2 separate regions of the Homo sapiens genome follow, and region 2 is reported to be linked to region 1. Evidence: microRNA targets listed by miRTarBase, many of them from high-throughput screens and not tested one by one. Region 1 holds a microRNA gene; the other region holds the end of a gene's coding sequence.
What was found. Region 1 holds the annotated microRNA hsa-miR-4477a (CUAUUAAGGACAUUUGUGAUUC, at 928-949, opposite strand). A microRNA usually pairs through its seed, bases 2 to 8, with sites in the 3' UTR of a target mRNA and lowers its output. Matches are read on the target gene's strand: a 7mer-m8 pairs with bases 2 to 8, a 7mer-A1 pairs with bases 2 to 7 and ends in A, and an 8mer does both.

Region 1 (3,419 bases):
GAGAAGTCAACGCTTGGCTTCAAAACTTCAAAGGATGGGCTGACTCTCTTTGAGGACCACTGCAGCTGGTGACTTTAAGTTACAGCCAGTGCTCATTGACCACTCTGAAAATCTCAGGGCCCTTAAGAATTATGCAAAATCTATTCTTTCTGTGCTCTAGAAATGGAACATCACTGTCTGGGTGACAGCACATCTGTTAATAGCATGGTTTACTGAATATTTTAATCCCACTATTGAGACCTACTGCTCAGAAAAAAAAAAAAACGATTCTTTTAAAAAGATTGTTGGTTGGCCAGGCATAGTGGCTCATACTTGTAATCCCTGCACTTTGGGAGGCCGAGGATCACCTGAGGTCAGGAGTTCAAGACCAGCCTGGCCAAAATGATGAAACCCCATCTCTAATAAAAATACAAAAAAATTAGCCAGGGATGGTGGTAGTACCTGTAATTTCAGCTACTTGGGAGGCTGAGGTAGAAGAATGGCTTGAACCCTGGAGGCAGAGGTTGCAGTGAGCCAAGACCGTACCACTGTACTCCAGCCTGGGCAACAAGAGCAAAACTAAGTCAAAAAAAAAAAAAAGAAAAGAAAAGAAAAGAAAGAAAAAGAAAAAATAAAAGGAAAGAAAAGGAAAAAAGAAAAAAAGATTGCTGCTTATTGACAATTCACCTAGCCACCCAGAAGCTTAGATGGAGATTTACTTGGAAATTAATGTTATTTTCATGGCTGCTAGTACAATATTTACCTTCAGCCTGTGGATCAAGGAGTGGTTTTGACTTTCAAGTGTTTTTATTAATTAATAATTGCATTTTGTAAAGGTATAGCTGTCATAGATAGTGATTTCTTTGATGAATCTGGATAAACTGAATTGAAAACCTTTTGGAAAGGATTCCCCATTAATCTTTTCATGATATTTGAACCTCCTCCCGTGAATCACAAATGTCCTTAATAGCAATCCTTAAATGCCATTAAGGACATTTGTGATTGATGGGAGGAGGATGAAATATTAACATTAACAGGAGTTTGGAAGAAGTTGATTCCAGCCCTCATGGATGACTTTGAGGGCTCAGGATGTCAGTGGAGGAAGTCCCTGCAGATGTGGTAGAAATCACAAGACAACTAGAATTAGAATTAGGGCCTTAAGGTGAGATGAAATTGCTGTAAACTCATGATGAAACTTGAACAAATAGGGAGTTGCTTCTTATGGACGAGCAAAGAAAATATTTTCTTGAGATGGAATCTAATCCAGGTGGAGATGCTATCAACATTGTTGAAATGACAACAAAGGATTTAGAATATTCCATAAACCTAGTTGATAAAGCAGCAGCAGGGTTTGAGAGGGTTTATTCCAATTTTGAAAGAAGTTCTACTGTTGATAAAATGCTGTCAAACAGCATCACATGCTACAGGGAAATCTTTGGTGAAAGGAACAAACTTCATTGTTTTAAAAAATTGACACAGGCTTCCAACCTTCAGCAGCCCCCACACTGATTAGCCAGCAGTCATCAATATAGAGGCAAGACTCTCACCAGCAAAAAGATTATGACTTGGTAAGGCTCAGATATTCATTAGCATTTTTTAGCACTGACGTATTTTAACTTAAGGTATGTACACAGTTTTTTAGACATGCTATTAATTACTAATTAATAATTATTAAATACTCATTAGACTACAATATAGTTTAAGCATAACTTTTATAAGCACTGGGAAATAAAATGTTTATGCAACTAACTTGATTGTAACATTTGCCTTACTGAAGTGGTCTGGAACAAAACCCACACTATCTCTGAGGTGTGCTTGTAGGTTTTTGTTTGTAGCATTTGCTTTACTGCAGTTGTCTGGAACCAAACCCACACTATCTCTGAGGTGTGCTTCTAGGTTTTTGGTTGTTCTTTGTTTTGAGATGGGGTTTCGCTCTGTCGCCTAGGCCAGAGTGCAGTGACATGATCATAGCTCACTGCAGCCTCAAACTGCTGGGTCAAGTGATTTTTCTACCACAGCCTCCTGAGTAGCTGGGACTACAGGCATGCAGCACTATGCCTGGCTATATTTTTTTAATACTTTTTTTGTAGAGACGGGATCTCACTATGTTGCCCACCTGGTCTTGAACTCTGGGGCTCAGGCAATCCAGCCACTTCAGCCTCCCAAAATGCAGCCATTACAGGCTTGAGCAACTGCACCCAGCTTGTCTGCAGTTCTTAAAACAAAAACGGCCAGGTGCGGTGTCTGACACCTGTAATCCCAGCACTTTGGGAGGCCAAGGCAGGTGAATCACAAGGTCAGGAGTTCAAGACCAGCCTGGCCAAGATGGTGAACGCAGTCTCTACTAAAAATACAAAAATTAGCCAGGCGCAGTGGCGGGCACCTGTATTCCCAGCTACTCGGGAGGCCGAGGCAGGAGACTCACTTGAACCCGGGAGGCGGAGGTTGCAGTAAGCCGAGATCGTGCCAGTGCACTCCTGCCTTGCGACAGAGCAAGACTCCATCAAAAAAAAAAATGTAATTTAAAAGATTAAAAGTTACGATAGATTTTTACAAATGTATATATCTACCATTATAGTATCATACAGAATGGTTTTACTGCCGTGAAGATTCTCTGTGCTCTGTGTATCCATCTCTTCCTTCCCCTTGGTCCATGGCAACCACTGATCTTTCTACTGATCCCATAGTTTCACCGTTTCCAGAACGTCATATAATTGGAATCAAACAGTACGTAGACTTTTCGGATTGGCTTCTTCTTTTAGCAATATGCATTTAAGTTTCCTCCATGTATTTTTTTGTGGCTTGATAGTTCATCTCCTGTTAGCAGTGAATAACATCCTGTTGCCATTATACTTTTGTCAAGACTCAGAACGTACAGCGTGAAGAGTAAACGTGAATGTGCACTGTAAGCTTTGAATGATAATGAAGGATCAAGGTAGGTTCCTGGTTGTCACAGGTGTGCTCCTGTGAGGCAGGAAGCTGTAGTGGGGAGGCTGTGTGTGGGGAAAGGGACATATGAGAAGTCTGTACTCTCTGCTCCATTTAGCTGTGAACCTGCACTTCTCTAAAAAATAAAATTAGTTAAAATTAAAAGCAAAAAATTAGAAAAATTAAAACATTACAATGTGTCATATAGTTTTCAAATCACAAGACAGAAAAAGACATAATAAAAGAAACTATAGAAAACAACAAGGATAGGAATAAAACATCAGTGATAGAAGGCAGAAGACAGAAACATGGAGCCAAACACATTAATTTATTTTAATCATTAGTTATACTCATTTATACTAATTTATATTGATTTAACATATTAATTCTGACTAAATGGCATTAAAAGAGGTCTGAAGAATTTGCATGTCACATTCTGGATGACAGGACTCAATAATATTAACTCTTTAGTTTGCTGTAAATCATTTAAAAATATGCTCAAATTCCAATAA
Region 2 (3,419 bases), not on the chromosome of region 1:
TCTTAACCCATCTGGGTGGCTCTGACATTATGATGCTAATGGAGAGTTCACTATGGATGGGAAGCAAAGCATTAATTTTAATTTCCCTTCTAGACTAAGTCCAATTTCTCAATTGAATATATAAATCATAGAGCCAGACAGGGTGACTGGATCACATGCAGATAAGGGAAAAGGATGAAGTCACTCAGGAGCAGCAAAAATCAAGACCAATGCATAGCTTAGAATGTAAAGGGTATACAGAATAGAAATCAGAGGAGAAATGAATAAGCAACTAAATCTTGATGGTTTTTTTACATAGCTCACATCTTGTTATGTTGGTTCTTTTATATGAGCTTACAATTGAGGCAGATGGTTTTGGGGTTTTTTTTTTTTTCAAACATGTATAGTTTTTCCACCTTGATTTCAAGATGTTCAAGGAAAGCAACCTCTTCCCTTTCTTTCATATTTTCCTAAACCCACCACAGCTGGCAGTCTTCGACATACAGTAAAACTCAATAAATTTTTAATTTACTGGATTTCATCATGACAAAGAATTCAACTTTCTACAACCCCCTCGCCACAAAAAAGCCCAAATCTCTCAGAAAAAAAAGCAACATTATAATTTCCTACATGATCTTGTATTAGGTATATCTGCTCTCACAAAATTCTTGACTACTGGAAGTGTAAGAAACATTGCACTGTTATTGGCTTTCTGAGAGTATTGTGTCAAGGCATATCAATGAGAAAAAAATTCATGAAACTGGTGAGAGAACATAAGCCAATGGCAAATTTTTAAATAGATAAATAGAATGCCAAACACAGCCTCTGGTAAGGCACTGATAGAATAGGAATTAGGAGCTAAGGATATACAACTTTGGGGGCAGATACAGAACCCAAATAGCTTTTGGCTTCAACTGCTACAACTACTGATCAGCCTTTATAATTAAGGATAGAAGGATCCAAAACAGGGCTAGAGTACCAGTGTTGGCAGATTTCAGAGAATAGCTGTAAACCAAAGAAGAGCAGTCTCTTACAGGCTAGAGAAAGAGTCACAAGATTCACACTTATGGCCACAGAACAGTGAACCTTTTACTGGGGATTCAAGTTTAAAATCACACAGCTTAACAGTAATGTTAGTTTTACCACTAGGTGGCAATGACACAGCTGCATTGGGCTGACATGATTAATTTTAAAAACTGTGCAAATCCAGACAGAAATTCCAAGATCTGTAGTACATATTTTCATTTTAGAAAAATTATTTTATGTACAGCTTACTTTATAGCAGAACGTGTCATTATCTGATTCAATATGTATGTTAACTTCTGATGGTTTTTCACACTCTACACTGAGGAAATTCATGCAATAAACACTATTTTTAAACACTTTCATCACACATCTTCTGAAAAATATAGACATACACCTATCATGAAAATAAGAGAAATTATGGAAAACTAAAAATACTTTTGAAGTTTTAGTATTCTACAGAAAGCACTATAAAATGTTACGTATTTCAACAAAAAAAGTTAAACCTTTAAAAAATGACTAATAGAGAACAATTGTAATTTATTTTTTAAAAATTTTTGGCCAAAACATGAAATAGCATGGAAACACTTTACTTTTAAATTACAAGTTACATTAATATTCATATGTGCAAAGTAGTTTCAATGTCTTGAATAAACATACTTAGTTTACAAAAAAAATTTATCAAAATTCTGATTTAGATTACATTTTAGCAGATTAATCCCTTTTTATATGTATTAAAATAATAAACAATAATATTCCTTAGTGTCTGGCACTTTCAGTAATTATTTCTGCTTTCTTCATAAAACAGGATACAAACATATGACTTATTTAAAATCATAAAACTTTATTATTGTAATTTCCTTTTCTCATCAAAGGGCCAGATATGACAATATTTTTCAAATTATAGACAACATTTGTGAGTATGCAGTAAAAACACTAAAAAAAAAAAAAAAAAAACTTATTAAATCTCAAATTCCCAAGATGTTCCCCCATATAAGGTGGGAGCTCATATCATCACATGTAACATTACAAAACCTGTACTATAAAATTAGATGAATAAATAATAAACCTATACTATTACCAAATTCATAATAAAAAGATCAACTTACCAAATTAAAATCAGCCTATTTATTCCCTTTGTATAAATAACCTAAAGTTCCCCAGGTTTTTATTTCCCAGTTTCCTACAAATGAATTGATCAGAATGCCTCTTTATAGATCAGCTTTCCCATAGTTTCTCTCTCATTTGGCAATAACTTCCCATATTTACTTCATTTCCAGAATAATCTCCCCCTCTTGCAACCCACACAAATGTAAGAGAATGAAGGCATAATTTCTATAATTCATAATTATTTCCCCATTATTGAATTTCATTTTTGAATTATTATAAATCATCCTGAAATCTAATAATATAAATCTTTCTCATCCTATCAGTCTATTAAAATATACAAAACATCATTTAAGATGGTTAACACAAGAAAAGATAACTATGGCAGCCTTCATAAATCAAGCAAAAGATTTCAGAAAAGTGCTTCAGTCTGTTCAGTTATCTCTAACTTTCACTAGAAAATTAAGGGAATGCCACTGTTACAGAAGGTATAATTGCAGATTCTAAAAAGTGAATACATGTGTACATGTAATTTATATCTATTCAGTATCATCTTCTGATTATCTGTACAAATAAAAGGACAAAAGACACAGATGATGAAAACACATAATCCTCAAACCACTTCAGATACATTTTGTGCCTGTATTTCACAGGACCAAGTCTGAGAATTCAGAACACAAAGAAAATTAAGCCATATTGCAAAGAGTTTGTCACAAACACAATGAGCAGAACAATAAAATTGAAATGACATTATTGACTTGACTTTGTCATCTTCTGTTTATTTCTGATGGTGGCTCGAAGTTTACGTATTACCAGTCTATCAGGTAGAATCATATCACCTTGTTGTTCTAGATAATCCAATAAATTTTCAGTCCACTGGAGGGCAGCTGCATGATTAATATGTTTCTCTGGAATTAGTTCTATTTCCTCCTCCTCATTTTCACTGGATTCATCTGCCTGGCCTTGTGCTCTTCTGATGATTTCGCTATCAGTTAACACTTCATAGCCTGGTTCAGTACTGTCTACTTCAAGCCATTTTTCAAGGTTCTCAGTAGTCACATTTTCCAATCCTTTGGTGTGTTGTAAAATGGCAGCCACAGTAGCCACAGAAATATCTTCAACATCAAAGTCCAGGCTCTCTTTCTCCTCTACCATAGGGAGAATCTTCTTCCATGCTCTGCTAATGGTAACTGGTTTTACTAAGTTCCATGCCATTGCTATTTCATAAAGTGCATCCAACAGAGTTAGCTTCTTCCAGAATGATTTCAGGTCATTACCTTCTTCCAAGTTGTTCTGGAGAAGACCTGCAC

Region 2: miRTarBase lists JRKL as a target of hsa-miR-4477a. Seed matches in the 3' UTR shown: 7mer-A1 at 1,961-1,967.

The regions. Positions count from the first base shown.
Region 1 is chr9:41,231,332-41,234,750 of GRCh38, reverse strand. It overlaps MIR4477A (microRNA 4477a), which reads right to left and starts at 996; the gene lies at 916-996.
Region 2 is chr11:96,391,665-96,395,083 of GRCh38, reverse strand. JRKL (JRK like) reads right to left here. Exons shown (of 2, transcript NM_001261833.2): 2 at 1,523-3,419. The coding sequence ends at 2,860. Among named protein-coding and RNA genes, the nearest start is that of JRKL, 3.4 kb to the right of the region's middle.